Linked DNA regions of Homo sapiens: region 1 is linked to region 2. Evidence: fine-mapped expression QTL. A gene starts in region 2. The other region holds a variant in brackets. All regions are shown on one strand. Distances are from middle to middle. Region 1 holds the start of SUPV3L1 (Suv3 like RNA helicase). Region 2 holds the start of VPS26A (VPS26 retromer complex component A).

Evidence for each region. PIP is the estimated chance that this variant, and not a neighbour inherited with it, causes the effect.
Region 1: its variant is fine-mapped to the expression of VPS26A in whole blood (INTERVAL, PIP 0.92).

What each region holds. Positions count from the first base shown.
Region 1 is chr10:69,174,703-69,182,702 of GRCh38, reverse strand. SUPV3L1 (Suv3 like RNA helicase) reads right to left here and starts at 2,469. Exons shown (of 15, transcript NM_003171.5): 1 at 2,141-2,469. The coding sequence starts at 2,411. RefSeq lists an enhancer at 2,385-2,754. The variant G/A (reference allele first, on the strand shown) is at 3,395.
Region 2 is chr10:69,120,670-69,128,669 of GRCh38, reverse strand. VPS26A (VPS26 retromer complex component A) reads right to left here and starts at 4,492. Exons shown (of 9, transcript NM_004896.5): 1 at 4,390-4,492. The coding sequence starts at 4,392. RefSeq lists enhancers at 3,528-4,034, 4,899-5,258 and a silencer at 4,239-4,638.

The sequences.
Region 1 (8,000 bases), 54 kb before region 2:
TAAATTCAACATCTGGACCAATCCCAGTCAAAGGAGATGAAAAATCACCTGGCACACAGACCCAATGAAGTATCTAAGGATTCTCCACCAGAAGAAAATCTAGTGCTGACAAACCCATGTCTTTATTCTATCTTCTTACAGGAAGCAGCAAAGACATTTACATTTTCAGGTGAATTGGAATAGCTGCAGAAAATAAGAATTTATCAATATTTGAATACAATAAGGCAAATTATCTCATCCAAATTACCTTATGCCTTCAAATAATATAAAATAATGGAAAATTGTTCTTTAATGGGTAAACTATTGTTTGAGTTTCAACTCTGCAAGATGAAAAAGTTCTCATCTATTTCGCGACAATGTCAATATACTTAACGCTAGTGAACTATGTGCTTAAAAACAATTAAGACTGGCTGGGTGCAGTGGCTCAGGTCTGTAATCTCAGGGCTTTGGGAGGCCATGGCAGGAGGATCCCTGGAGCCCAGAAGTTTGAGACCAGCCTGGGCAACATAGCAAGACCCCATCTCTACAAAAAATTAAAAAATTATCCAGGCATGGTGATGCACGCCTGTATTCCTAGCTACTTAGAAGGCTGAGCCAGGAGGATTGCTTGAGTCTGGGAGTTGGAGGTTACAGTGAGCTATGATCATACCACTATACTCCAGCTTGGGTAACAGAGCAAGACCCTGTCTCTAAAAAAAAAAAAGTAAAGAAAAAAAAACTAAAAAAAAGCTTAAAAGAGTAAATTTTATGTATTTTTATAATTTAAAAATAAATAATAGTATAATTACATTATTAAAATAACACATTCTCTGCTATGGTTTGAATGTCTTCTCCAAGACTCATATTGAAATTTAATTGCTATTTTAACAGTTGAGAGGTGGAACCTTTAAGAGGTGATTAGGACATGAGGAGTTTGCCTTTGTGAGTGGATTAATGCCATTATCACAGGAGTCAGTTATCACAGGAAAAAAGGATAAGTTCAGCCCCCTTTCTCTGTCTCACAGGCTCATTTGCCTTTCCACCTTCCACCATGTGATGATGCAGCCAAAGGCCCTCATCAGATCCCGGCTCAGAACCATGAGTCAAATACACCTCTATTGTTTATAAATTACTCAGTCTCAGGTATTATGTTATAACAGCAGAAAATAAAGACAGTCTCCCAGCACCAAGTAAAGTGAAAGGCCTTGCTTAACACTGGAAGAATATGTCAAAGAATAACATATACTGTGAGTTCCATCACATGTTTAGTGAAAGTACTGTACTTCTGCTCTGAAAAACATATTGTAGTCTATATTTTAGATTTACAATAGGAGGCACCAATGTCGCTTGTTGAAGTGAGACATTTCTCCTCCTATTCCTGGAGACAATTCTGGATAGCATTTCCTCAATCTCCCAGTTTCATATGGTCAGAGGAAACTCCCTTACCTCCCTAATCATCCCGAAACTCACCTTGAAAACATTCACATGCCTCTCTGTCAACGAATCCATCCAAACTTAAGTTTTGCTGAGCAAAGCCCGCTGCCACTAACTGATGCTACCTCTTCTTTTCTCTCTGGAGCCGGGGACACCCTACCTTGTTCTAGACCTTGTCATGTTCTACCTTGTATTACAGTTCACTTTCCATACACGTGTCCTCCCCCACGATACCGTTACGTTTCTTAAGAGGGGATCTGGATCTGAGTCTGGTTCCTCTTGGCAACCACCACACAGCCTAACAGCGTGGTATGAGTCGGCGCCTCCTCAATGATAAAGAATCCTAAAAGGAGTCTCCGCTGGCTTTTCACTGCCACATCCCATTCGGGGGTGGGAGAGAAACAAAGAATGCAAGAAAGAGCGGGCGTCCACCTAACAACTCAAAAAAGTCAAATCTTCCCAACACATGAGTGTCTAAACCATTCAGAGAGCAGGGCAGTAAAAGGGAAAAGGCCGCTTCTGGGACGAGGCGTTAAGAATTAATCAGATACAGTCCTAAGCCGTTTGAGGGGCTCACACACCAGCGAAGGAGGCAGACACTGAGAGGCACGATGACAACACTCGATGGGACCTCGGATCCCCAGGGGAAGGGGATGTAGCTTCCTCCCAACCAGCCTCGGCCCAGCAGACACCACCCTCTGCCGCCCTCAGTAGTTCCCGCACTCACTCTTGTCCAGAGGCCGGGTTAGCTCGGCCCCGACGTCGCCGTCGGCGCTGGGGCCCTGAGGTTTCACAGTCAGGGGCACGAACAAGGACGTGTTTGGTATTTTGGAGCCACCGGAGGCAGAGGAGGAGGCGGTGGCAAGGACAGAAACTTGCCCCAGAACCCCGGGAAAGGGCCCAAAGTGGGGACGAAGGGCAGAGCAGATGGCTGCCCGGTGGCCAGCCTGGCGCCCCGCCGGGAGCCGAGCCCACAATAGGGCACGGGAGAAGGACATCGAGGCCGCAGGTTCTACACTGTCTGGCGCAGCCGCGGACACGGCGGCGGACAGTGACGCGCACCTCCAGCGCCTGCTGTCCAGAAAGACCCAGGCCGAGCAGGTAAGCTGCCCGGGAAAACGCCTGACCGTTAAGGAAAACGCCGTGCCGTGAGGGTGTTCTTTCAGGGAAAAAGAAGATTAGCAGGCAAAACCACTAGAGATAATTCTCGTTCTCTTTCTCTGTTTTGTTGGTGATTGGGACCACCTTTCCCTAAAGAAGGGAAAATAATCAGGCATCTTTGGGATGTCATACATGAGCGGAGGGGGCCTGCTAGTCGTGTCACGTGATGCAAACTAGTACTTTGGTAAGCAAGTGTCCAGAAGCACGTGGGTGAGCAGTGAGAGAATGGGTGGTGGAGCAGCAACTGCGAATGCTCAGGGTACGAGTATGTCTTGCGGACTCAAACACTAAATAGCATTTCCCAAAAGTTTCTTGCATTGTTAACCGTCATTTCCTGATATGATAACGTTAGCGATAATAACTTGATATGCCCCTCAGAAATGTTGCTAAGAAATATTGTTGCACTATTAAACCCCTTGTATTACGTAAGTACTTTTGCTTTAATGTGAGCAGTTTGCGTACATCATCCTAGCAGCTATGACCACATAGTTGTGACCACATGGCAAAAATACGTGCTCTGTACCCCAGCCATAGTTTCGTTCCATTGCATTTGTTGAATACCGTGTTCTCATGTGAGGCTGCAACATGTTAAATTCACAAGTTTAACCCGGGCGTGGTGGTTCACGCCTGTAATCGCAGCACTTAGGGAGGGCGAGGCCGGTGGATCATCTGAGGTCAGGAGTTCGAGACCAGCCTGGCAAACATGGTGAAATCCCCTCTCTACTAAAAATACAAGAATCAGCCGGGCGTGGTGGTGCACACCTGTAATCCCAATTACTAGGGAGGCGGAGGCAGGAGAATCGTTTGAACCTGGGTGCCA[G/A]AGGTTGCAGTGAGCCGAGATCGGGCCACTGCTCTCCAGCCTGGGCAACAGAGTGAGACTCCGTCTAAAAAAAAAAAAAATTCACAAGTTTAGCATCTCCATCCACATCTCTTTATACTTACATCATTAAGATCTTACAACTTGAAGGAACGTGTTATGTAATATACAATACTGTATGTCTAATAGGATTCCAGTAACAATTTGCCACGTGCCTTTGATTCACAAAATAATTTTTAAACATCAGGGATACAAGGAGACAGTCCTTTGCTTTCAAAGGTTCTGATCTGGTTTTGGTGGTAAGAACAGTACACGTTAAATAATGCACTTATTACTCTAATAGACTAATGGCAGTTCAAAGAAAGGAGCAATTTGAGAGTGGTAAGGAGATTTCTGCCAGACTTAAAAGTAAAACATAGAGAAGCGGTAAGTAAATTCTAGTCAGTGGAAACGATGTAAGCAGAGGCTTAACTAAGGAAAAGACATACTGAAAAAAATTTAAGTAACAGAGTTAACGCAGACCTAATTCTATGGCTTACAAATAGTGATTATATTTTTGAGAAGAGAAATCATTCATTAGGAAGTACCTAGGATAGACTAGGATAAACACAAATATGCAGGGAGGAAAATTACAACTTTATCAACAGTTCTAGCTGAAGGTGGTAGATTCCTGTGTCTGAGTTATGATGGAGACCATGTATGTGGAATGAGAGGTTTTACAAGACTCCTTAGATAATGTAGTGAGTGACTAAATATGCTAGAAAATGTTAATAAACAATGATGTCTCGTCAGATTTGGAAACTAGGAGAATGAAGGATAAACCAAACGTTTAATACGTAACTGAGGCAAGCACTATGTTGTTCCTTTTAATCTTTTAATATGCTTGACAACAATTTAGAGGTATTATTGTCACCAGGTTAACTAACTTGCCCCAGTAAGTGGTAGAGTCAGATACAAATCTAAATCTTTTTTTTTTCTTTTTTTTGAGACAGTCTCACTCTGTTGCCCAGGCTGAAGTGCAGTGGTGCAATCATAACTCACTGCAACGTCCACCTCCCAGGCTCAAGCAATTCTCATGCCTCAGCCTCCCGAGTAGCTGGGACTACAGGCTTGCACCACAATACCTGGCTAATTTTTGTATTCTCTTTAGTTTCACCATGTTGGCCAGGCTGGTCTCAGAACTCCTGGCCTCAAGTGATCCAGCTGCCTCGGCCTCCCAAAGTGCTGGGATTACAGGTGTGAGCCACCGTGCCCAGCCAGTCTTTCTGATTTCAAAGCAAATAGGTGGGCTTTTTGGACAGGAGCAGCATATTAGGCCAGAATCAACATTTGTACGAGTCTTTTTTTTTCTTTGGAAGGGTGATCGTGAACTCCTGGGCTCAAGCAATCCTGTGTCAGCCTCCTGAGTAACTGGAACTACAGGTGCATGCCACAGCACCTGGCAGTTACTAGTCTTACAGATCTAGCCCAACCCTAGTATAGTTTTACAGAAAAAAAAAATCCTCAAAACTATTTTAACTGTAATTTTGTTTGCACCTCCTTGCAGGTAGAAAATGCAATCTGAATTTTATGATAGCACATACAGGCTTTCCCTTTCAGCCATTCATTAAGTTCTACTATAAACATTGAAATGGGAAAATTCAATATAAAATTTTTGCTTTTACAAAAAAAGATGTCATATCTATACTGGTTATGTCATATTTATAGCAGTAAGTGTAATCAGCACCTAACACATATTAGAGCCTCTATAAATGTTTTATTTTGCTTGTTGAATGGATTAATGCAGTAACTATGTAACTGGTATCCTCCTATACTTTGCCGTAGCACCATAATGATCTTTTGAAAACACAAATCTGGTAAGTTACTCCTGCTTAGAGTCCTTTGGTGATTCTGAATAAATGTTCAGATAAAGCCCATATTCCATCGTATGGCATCCAGGTTCTGTCCTAAATTGGTTGGCCCTATATGCCTCTTCCAGCTTTATTTCTACTCCCCACATCTACCATTCTATTCATGCTGGAACTATACACCAGTTATATCATCGTTTCTTACCTCTGCACCTCTGAACACACTGGGTGCTTCTCTTACATATCACAGGTCCCAGTAGAGGCTCTATCATAGAATGAAAACTATCGTAATTGTGTCTCTGGGTCAGTGGTTCTTAAACGTTAGAGTGCAACAAGATTGTTGGGCCCCATCCCTGAAGTTTCTGATTCAGTAGATCTGGAGTGGGATCTGAGAGTTTACATTTCTAAAACATTTCAGATGATGCAACTCTGCTGGTCTGAGACCACACTTTTGAGAACCACTGCTCTGGATTAAAGTTCCTTCAGGATAGGGCCAAGATAACACTTACTCCATTTTGCATTGCTATAACAGAACACCACAGACTGAGTAATTTGTAAAGAAAATGAATTTATTTCTTTTAGTTCTGGAGGCTAGGAAGTCCAAGATCAAGAGGCTGGCATCTGGTGATGGCCCTCTTGACATAACCTGGTAGAAGGCATCACATGGCCAGAGAGCAAGACCTGTGTGTCAACTCAGGTTTCTCTTTTCTTACGAAGCCACCAGTCACATCATGGGGGACCCACACTGAGAACTTTTATCTAATCCTAATTACTTCCCAAAGGCCTCACCTCCAATCAATATATGAATTTGATGATTAAGTTCCAACACAAAAAATTTAGGGGACACATTCAAACCATAGCAAGCACTAACTGATAGTCTGTAAATATGCTAAATCCATGCATGAATACGGAAATAAATAGAAGGGGAAAGGAAGTGGGAGAAGATAACCTAGGTGGCAGAAATAATACAAGTTAATTTCTTCTTCGCCTTTGCTTTTGCTGTTTTTTGTTTTTTGTTTTTTGTTTTTTTTTTTGAGACGGAGTCTTGCTCTGTCACCAGGCGGGAGTGCAGTGGCGCAATCTCGGCTCACTGCAAGCTCTGCCCCCTGGGTTCATGCCATTCTCCTGCCTCAGCCTCCCGAGTAGCTGGGACTACAGGCGCCCGCCACCACGTCCGGCTAATTTTTTTTGTATTTTTAGTAGAGACGGGGTTTCACCGTGTTAGCCAGGATGGTCTCGATCTCCTGACCTCATGATCCACCCGCCTCGGCCTCCCAAAGTGCTGGGATTACAGGCGTGAGCCACCGCGCCCGGCCTGCTTTTGCTATTAACAAAATCTGGTGTAGGTTTCACAAAAGCACATCCTGTAGATTACTCTCTCATACCTTGTCTACCAAATTTTGTAAGTTGAAGTTTCTAGTATTTTTCTGACATTAAGGTTATCATGATCTAGACGCTAAACTGTTGCTTATCCTAAGTGAACTTTTAAGATTTACTCTTGGCCGGGCACGGTGGCTCACGCCTGTAATCCCAGCACTTTGGGAGGCCAAGACAGGTGGACCACGATGTGTCCAGAGTTTGTTCCTTCCAGTGGGTTCGTGGTCTTGCTGATTTCAAGAATGAAGCTGTGGACCTTTGCAGTGAGTGTTACAGCTCTCAAAGGTGGCATGGACCCAAAGAGTGAGCAGCAGCAAGATTTATTATCGTGAAGAGCGAAAGAACAAAGCTTCCACAGCATGGAAGGGGACCCAAGCGGGTTGCTGCTGCTGGCTGGGGGCTGGGGTTGGGGGGTGGCAGCCAGCTGTTATTCCCTTATTTGTCCCCCACCCATGTCCTGCTGATTGGCCCATTTTACAGAGTGCTGATTGGTCCATTTTACAGAGCACTGATTGGTCCATTTTACAAATCTCTAGCTAGCCACAGAGAGCTGATTGGTGCATTTTACAAACCTCTAGCTAGCTAGAGTGCCAATTGGTGCGTTTTACAATCCTAGCTACAGAGTGCTGATTGGTGCATTTTACAATCCTCTTGTAAGACAGAAAAGTTCTCCAAGTCCCCACCCGACCCAGAAGTCCAGCTGGCTTCACCTCTCAGTGAGGTCAGGTGATCGAGACCATCCTGGCTAATAAAGTGAAACCCCATCTCTACCAAAAATACAAAAAATTAGCCAGGCATGGTGGCACGTGCCTGTAGTCCCACCTACTCGGGAGGCTGAGGTAGGAGAATCCTTTGAACCCAGGAGGCAGAGGTTGCAGTAAGCCGAGATTGCACCACTGCATTCCAGCCTGGGCGACAGAGCAAGACTCCATCTCAAAATTAAAAAAAAAAAAAAAAAAAAGATTTAGTGTTAGAGTCATGAAATGTTAGAGCTGGAAGGGATGGGGCACCTGTCAGACACATTTGTAGAACTTGTACAGATGGTACCCATGTGGTCCTGCTCTGTCTTGCTTTCTTTCCGGGGCATAATACCACTCCTGGAAAACCTTTGCTTTATTCTAATACTGAGCTGCATAACAGTTCTAATCCATAACTGTGTTATATTTTAGACCTGTATTTTTTTTCTAAATGAGAGCATCTTTAATTTTATAATCACTTGTTTTTGAAATCCCTTAGCTGTCTAAAAGCCTGGGCTCTCAAAAGAGCTAAAAAATCCCCTTCCCGGGAGCAACCAGGAAAGACTGACTTTTATCCTGAGACAATAAATGGGTACCACACGTGAACAGACATTGTAACAAAATTTTATCTTCCATCTATTTTCATAA
Region 2 (8,000 bases):
CTTAAAAGAAAAATGAGATTTGAAAACTATAAAAATTGTTTTACAGAGAAAAGGAAATATTATAACTTTTTTCCACATGCATATACCTAAACACACAGAGTTCCACTTGGGATTTGAAAGCTGACATTAAAAGATCAAATCGCCAGGCGCGGTGGCTCACGCGTGTAATCCCAGCAGTTTGGGAGGCCGAAGCAGGAGGATCACAAGGTCAGGAGATCGAGACCATCCTGACTAACACGGTGAAACCCCATCTCTACAAAAACAGAACAAATTTGCCAGACGTGGTGGCATGCACTTGTAGTCCCAGCTATGCGGGAGGCTGAGGCAGCAGAATCGCTTGAACCCAGGAGGCAGAAGTTGCAGTGAGCCGAGATCTTGCCACTGCACTCCAGCCTGGGCGACAGAGTGAGATTCTGCCTCAAAAAAAAAAAAAAAAAAATCAAATCCCAAAGTTAAATAAAATTTTGATAGAACTAAAATTGCCACCAATTAAAATGGTATAAACCAAGTTCATTTTATAAAATTTCACAATTAACACCATAATGATAAACAGTGTTTTGACACCATTCCTTAAATATTTAAATTCCTAACCATTAAAAATATGTGAAAAACTACGTGCTATCCTCTATTATTTTCTGGATGCAAGAAATATTTCATAATTTTAAAAAAAGTAGCAGAACACAGTGGCTCACACCTGTAATCCTAGCACTTTGGGAAGCTGAAGCAGGAGGATCACTTGAGCCCAGAAGTTCAAGACCAGCTTCGTCAATACAGCTAGACCCCCATATCTACAAAAATTTAAAAAATTAGCCCAGCATAGTGGTGTGTGCCTGCAGTCCCAGCTACTTGGGAGGCTGAACCCAGGAGGTCGAGGCTGCAGTAAGCCACTGACTGGGCGGCAGAGCAAGAGCTTGTCTCAAAAAAAAAAAAAAAAAAAAAAAAGATATTTTTAAATACAATCAAAACACTAAAATTGGAAGCAATCAAATGGCATTTTTAAAAAGCCTAGTATAGCATATGCAAAAAAGTAATAGGTTGAGTAATAAATTACTGCACTTTAACCAGTTATTCCATGACAATATGGCATTGGGTTAACATTCAGGTTTTTTTTTTTTTTGAGATGGAGTCTCGCTCTTTCGCCCAGGCCGGAGTGCAGTGGCGCTAGCTCGGCTCACTGCAAGCTCCGCCTCCCGGGTTCATGCCATTCTCCTGCCTCAGCCTCCCGAGTAGCTGGGACTACAGGTGCCCGCCACCGCGCCTGGCTAATTTTTCGTATTTTTAGTGGAGACGGGGTTTCACCGTGTTAGCCAGGATGCTCTTGATCTCCTGACCTCGTGATCCGCCCGCCTCGGCCTCCCAAAGTGCACCACGCCCGACCAACATTCAGTTTTTTTACATTAGGGCATATCGAAAATGAACTAGTCAGCCAGGCACAGTGGCTCACACCTGTAATCCCAACACTTTGGGAGGACAAGGCGGGCGGATCACTTGAGGTCAGGAGTTTGAGACCAGTCTGGCCAACATGGCGAAACCCCGTCTCCACTAAAAATACAAAAAAAAAAAAAAAAAAAAAAAATTGGCCGGGTGTGGTGGCGCATTCCTGTAGTCCCAGCTACTCAGGAGGCGGAAGTTGCAGTGAGCCAAGATCGCGCCACTGCACTCCAGCCTGGGCGACAGAGCGAGACTCCGTCTCAAAAAATAATAATAATAATAAAAGAACTAGTCTTACTAAAAAACACCTCCAGAAAATTGTGGATATCTTACATTTTACAGGTAGAGAACAAAAAGAAAAAAATAACTGAGGAAAAAAGCTTGTCTTTTAGAAAGAACTGAAAGAGAAAGATCTCTACCCAAAGTCTCTCTTTCAAAGTTTTTTCTAAGATGTGCAACTTCTGTCATTTGAAATAAAGGGTAATGAAATTAAATTCTTTTTCTAATTATTCTAAATAAAATTCTAATACTTCTGATATGTTAAAGAGGAAGTAAAATACACAACTGTCAAGCTGGTAAAGACTAGAAGGAAAGAGAATAAAATTTGTTGAGGGTTAGGATATGATGCAGACAGCAATTCAGTTTTGAGATTTTTTTTTTTTTTTTTTTTTTTGAGACGGAGTCTCACTCTGTCGCCAGGCTGGAGTACAGCAGCGCGATCTCGGCTCACTGCAACCTCTGCCTCCCGGGTTCAATTGATTCTCCTGCCTCAGCCTCCTGAGTAGCTGGGATTACAGGTGTGCGCCACACCTAATTTTTTTATTTTTAGTTGAGACGGAGTTTCACCATGTTGGTCAGGCAACTTCCGCCTCCCGAGTAGGTGGGACTACAGCAATGCGCCACCACACTTGGCCAATTTTTTTTTGTTTTTGTATTTTTAGTGAAGACGGGGTTTCGCCATGTTGGCCAGGCTGGTCTCAAACTCCCGACTTCAAGGTGATCCGCCCACCTCGGCCTCCCAAATTGTTGGGATTACAGGTGTGAGCCACCGCACCCCGTGAGATCTTTTAAGTGCAAAAATACTACTCACTTCTTTTGGTAAAGATATCTTCAAGGGCGCATTTGGAATATTGCGATTTTCAGGATTAACTATTAATATGCAAGTTAAAACTCTTGAGCTTTTAAATAACTGGACTGCAATATATATGACTATAAAAACATGCTAGCAATTGTTTTTATAGTTTTCTAATCTTGGCCTAAACCTCCTATCACTGACTTTAGGTTAATTTAGGATTTTTCATATAATTTCTGAACCCAATATTGAGCATTACCAATTAGCAAAAATACATGGTAGATACATAAAAAGGCAACTTTTTAGTCCCCACTGAAGGAATTTCACTAAGTCCAGTGGATGTAAAGAAATGCAACTCATTGCATTTCTGAGGTGGAAGGCTGACTCTCAAAATTCATTCACTTAGCCCATACACAAGCAATGAAACAGCAAATTTTCATACATATATTACATCTGTGACCATTTCAGTGTTTTAAAGTTTTACAATTTAGTTTCTGTTTGGGTAACTTGAAAATATAAACTGCTCTTGAACATAATTCAAAAAAGCGTATTAAAAGTAATAATTACAAATGTAAGCAAAAAATAGGAGGACCTTTTAAGTTTTCTTTTCAAATGATATTCAATTAAAGAAGCCTGCCCTAACACTGACTAGGCAAGGTCCCCCAATACTTCCTTCTTAGTATCTGTCACAATTCTAATTTCCACGTTAAACAAATAATTTACACAAATAAATGTTTATCTCTCCCTACATTGTAAGCTACGAGAGCAGGTAGGCGCTGTTTCCATTTTACTGGGGTCCCCTAGGCACACCTGAGCAATTATTTGTTGAATGAAAGAAAAAAAGCTCTAAGAATGAACATGAATGTCTGGATTTTGTTTTGTTTTGTTTTGAAAGCAACATCATTACTGAAATTAAAAGTTATTTATTCAAAGTAGCTTTTTAAAAATATACCTGGCTCGGCCTTTTAAGCCAAAAGTCTCAAGCAGTCTATTGAATCAGTGAGCTTTGGGAAGAGCAGGTAGTATTAGGAGAGCATACAGTAGGCGCTAAATGAAGAGAACTGACGACTACTACCAGAAAATGGGTAAAATGAGATCTAACCTAGAGACTGCCGACACCCAGCTAAATACCACAATGCCCAGGCTAGTGCTTCCGCGGACTGTGGTGAGAGCACTGATTCCCCTCCCTCCTCTGCCTCATAGGCCGTTTCAACAACCCAGAGCGTTAAGTTCAGCGAAATAGCTTGCGGACGGAAATGAGAGCCAATGCTTAAAACGGCGGGCACCAAACGGGTGTCTCTGGAGTTAAAGATATCCCCCATTCCAACGTCCTTTTATTTTTCTCTCCCATTTTACAAGTGTCAACAGAAAGCCTGAACTGGGGTCATGAAATCAAAGAATGTCACCATAGTCAGGTTTTAAAATATCAGAGTTTATCAAGTTCGTGACACACTGAGTGCCCAAGTCCCCCGAAGAGTCCGGAGGTGGGGGGCTCCCGGGTCGCCCCACCTGGATGGAAGAGAGGCTGCCCGGGAGGAGAACAGGGACTGGCTACCTAGGAAGGGGAGGCGGCGACCAGCCCCCGCAGAGGCGGGGTCCGAGTCCCCAGCCAGAGCCCCAACAAGCAGTCGAAGAACGCGGGCAGAGGCTCCGACATGGCCAGGAGAGCACGCCGCCGCCCGTAGGTGCTCGGGCCTCGCCGAGACCGGGAAGAGGTGGCGCCGCCAGCTTTTCCCAGACCCAGGGGTGGCCCGACAGGCCTAACCCCGCTCCCCGCCCTGCTCCCCCGTCCCCTCCTCCGGCGACGCCCGGCCCGCGGTTGGCCGGCCCGCCGCGCGCTCCGGGACGAGGGCGGGAGGCGAGCGCGCTGGCCGCCGCGCACTCACCATTGTCAACGCCGCCGCCGCGTCCCCCCTACTCCACTCCTCTTCCCTCAGGAGAACTCCCAGCCCCGGCTCCCTCCGCTCCGGCGCTCCGTCACGTGACCTCGGGCCGCCCCTCACACGTGACCGCTCCCTTCCTCTCCCCCACCCCCGCACCCGTCCCTCTCCCAGCCTCCTGCCCCGCCCTGCTGGCCGCCAGGCACTCCGGGGAGAGGCCGCTTGGAGGCGGGGCCTCAGGCTCCACCCTTCGGAGGGTGGAGAGGGGCGGGCAAATTACGTCGAGTGGGCGGGGCCTGAACAGAGGCGGGTTCGCGGGCTCCTCCTCGCCGTCTCTTCGGTCACCGGACGAGCGGTTCCGTGTCCGGCCTCTTTACCGCACCCAGTTCCTCTTTGTGAAAGTTTGAGCGGCTGGGAAGGAAGGAGGAGAGGAAGGATTCATCTGGAGGCTCTCTCCTTGGCTGGGTCCTTGGGTTGCCGAGGCGAGTGGGAGCCCTACTTCCTTAGGCCTCGCAAGAAGAGATGTGCTCTCTTCGTCCACGGCGAGGCGTTCTGCCACCTTGCCTGAACGCAGTCCCGCTCCACCTCCTTCTGAGTCTGGGTTTTCTTAACTTGGCTTTCTCGCCTCTGAAGAGAAGACCAGTAGAAAAAAATCCTAGGGTACAACTTTCATTGCTTCCCAAAGTCCCCAGATGGCCCCTGAGCGACCCACCCTGAGCCTGGAGGGCTCACAAACCCACCGTTCCGCCCAGCCGTTCTGAGAGGGCAAAGGCGCTCCCCCGAAAGTCCCACGGCGCAGCTGAAGACTACGCTGGCCTGAACTGGATCCTCCTCCCTAGTGTAAGCCTATAGGACCTCCAGATGAGGAAAATACTGTGTGGGATTTCAGAGTATAGTGTTGAAGGGCCACAGTGCACTCTATGCATAACCAAAGCAGAAGAAAAATCCATCCCTGAACGCACTATAATTACCCCACCTTAAAACAGAAGTTTGTGAGGCGAGTCCATGAAACAGGTATCAAAAAAAATTTTTTTATACTTAATCCTCAGTGTGAGCCTCAAATTTAAGAGGATTGAAATCAGAGTATCATCTCTAACCGCAATAGAATTAAAATTAGAAATCAACCCAAACAAGCCAGAAAATTCCGGAAATATTGGAAATTAAGCAACATAATTCCAAATCTCTAGGTCAAAGAAGAGATCAATGGAAATTTAAAAATAAGTTGAGGCCGGGCACGGAGGCTCACACTTGTAATCCCAACACTTTGGGAGGCCAAGGCAGGTGGATCACCTGAGGTCAGACACGAGTATCTCTTGAATCCGGGAAGCGGAGGTTGCAGTGCCCGAGATGGAGCCACTGCACTCCAGCCTGGGCGACAGAGCAAGACTCTGTCTCAAAAATAAAAAATAATAAAAATAAAATAATTTGAAATAAAAGATAATAATACAACATATCAAATTTGTGGAATGCAGTGACACTGTGTAAAAGGAAAATTTGTAGCTTTAAATGCACATATTTGGGCCAGGCATGGTGGCTCACAGTCTATAATTCCAGCACTTTGAGAGGCCGAGGCGGACGGATCACTTGAGGTCAGAAGTTTGAGACCAGCCTGGCCAACATGGCGAAACCCCGTCTCTACTAAAAATACAAAAATCAGCGGGGCATGGTGGTGCACGTCTGTAATCCTAGCTACTCGGTAGGCTGAGGCAGGAGGATCACTTAAACCTAGGAGGCAGAGATTGCAGTGAGCCAAGATTGCGCCACTGCACTCCAGCCTGGTGACAGAGCGAGACTCCATCTCAAAAAAAATAAATAACTATAGTAACACTGATATTGTTGTCTGTTTGAACTGTGAAAAGAAAGCAGCAAAAACAATGCAAATCTTTAATTAATAAAAGTGAAAAATGGTTTTTTTCACTTAGAAGATTTGCCTGTCACCTTGAGAGCTACTCTGGTTCCTACCCACTCTTTTCTGGGACTTAAATATCAACATAACAAAGAGAATAGATGAAAATGCCACACAGGCAAAGAAATACTAGCGAAGCCAGGTATAAATAAGAGGTGGCAAAGAAAGTCACACTAGAAACCAATTTGTACTAATTATTTATTCTACTGATCAAAACCCAATCAATAATTGTGCTATCATAATAAATACAAGAAGCAACAGAATTGTTGAGCTAGTTATTTGTCTGTCTGCCTACCTATCAATCTATTCAGCAAGCCAGAATGTTAGAGCTAGATTGTGAGCAGTACAGTGTTTCACCAGCTGAGAACTGTGGCATCTCTATATTTGCCCTCTGCCAAAAAAAAAAAAAAAAAAAAGGTGGGGTGTGTGAGGAAAATGTGACTAACTTACAGGGATTGACTTTCATCAACAAAAGTACCGAGTTTAGGTCAGAAAGTATTAGATGATAAGATAATCTGAGCTTTTATCAATCAGAAACCAGTTAAGAGAAAAATAGTCATTTGTTCAAATTCACAAAGACTAAAAATTCACATTAATAACTGTGAGAGTGTCAGGGAGCAGCTGTTTGCAGAGTTCACTGGCAAAGTTAAGGGAAGAGAATAAAATACAAATACACAAAAAGGATAAAGAAAGAAAATACAATTTAGGCCGGGCGCAATGGCTCACACCTGTAATCCCAACACTTTGGGAGGCTGAGGTAGGTGGATCACTTCAGCCCAGGAGTTTGAGACCAGCCTGAGCAACATGGTGAGACCTTGTCTCTTGCAAAAGAACAAAAATTAGCTGGGAGTGGTGGCATGTGCCTATTGGACCAGCTGCTCAGGAGGCTGAGGTGGGAGGATAGCTTGAGCCAGGGAGGCAGAGTTTGCAGTGAGCAGAGATTGCACCACTGCACTCCAGCCTGAGCAACAGAGCGAGACCCTGTCTCAAAAAATAAATAATAAATTAATTTAATTTAAAAATAAAATACAATTTAAAGCATGCCAGTGAAGTATAGAAACACTTTTTTCTTTTAACCTCCCAGAGCACATAGAATAGATTTTGCTTAAAAACTTTAGCGAGTGCAGCTGTAATCATGGTAAATATTCTTTTTTTAAAAAATTACAATTATAAAAGCCAAACATTTTTTCACAATATACAGTTTTTTCTTAAATGTACCAATACTTAATGTTTTATCTCACTATTCCTCTTTTCTTTTTAAAATGAGATATAATGTACATACAGTGACATATGTTAGTCTTAAGTGTGCAGTTTGATCAGTTTTGACAATTGCATACATTTTGATTGTGCATGGTGTCACAGGGCGCCGTGGCTCATGTCTATAATCTCAGCACTTTGTGAAGCCAACACAGGAGGATTGCGTGAGGCCAGGAGTTCAAGGCTGCAATGGTCGTGTCGCTGCACTCCAGCCTGGATGGTGGAGCAAGACCCTAGTCTCTAGAAAAAATTTAAAAATTATCCAGGTGGTGGGGCATGCCTGTAGTCACAGCCGCTCAGGAGGCTGAAGCGGGAGAATTGCTTGAGTCCAGGAGTTCCAGGCTATAGTGAACCACACTGGTGCGACTGCACTCCAGTTTGGGCTACAGAGCCAGGCCCTGACTCTTAAAAAAAAAGCATACATTTGTTTAACCCACACCTTCATCAAGATATA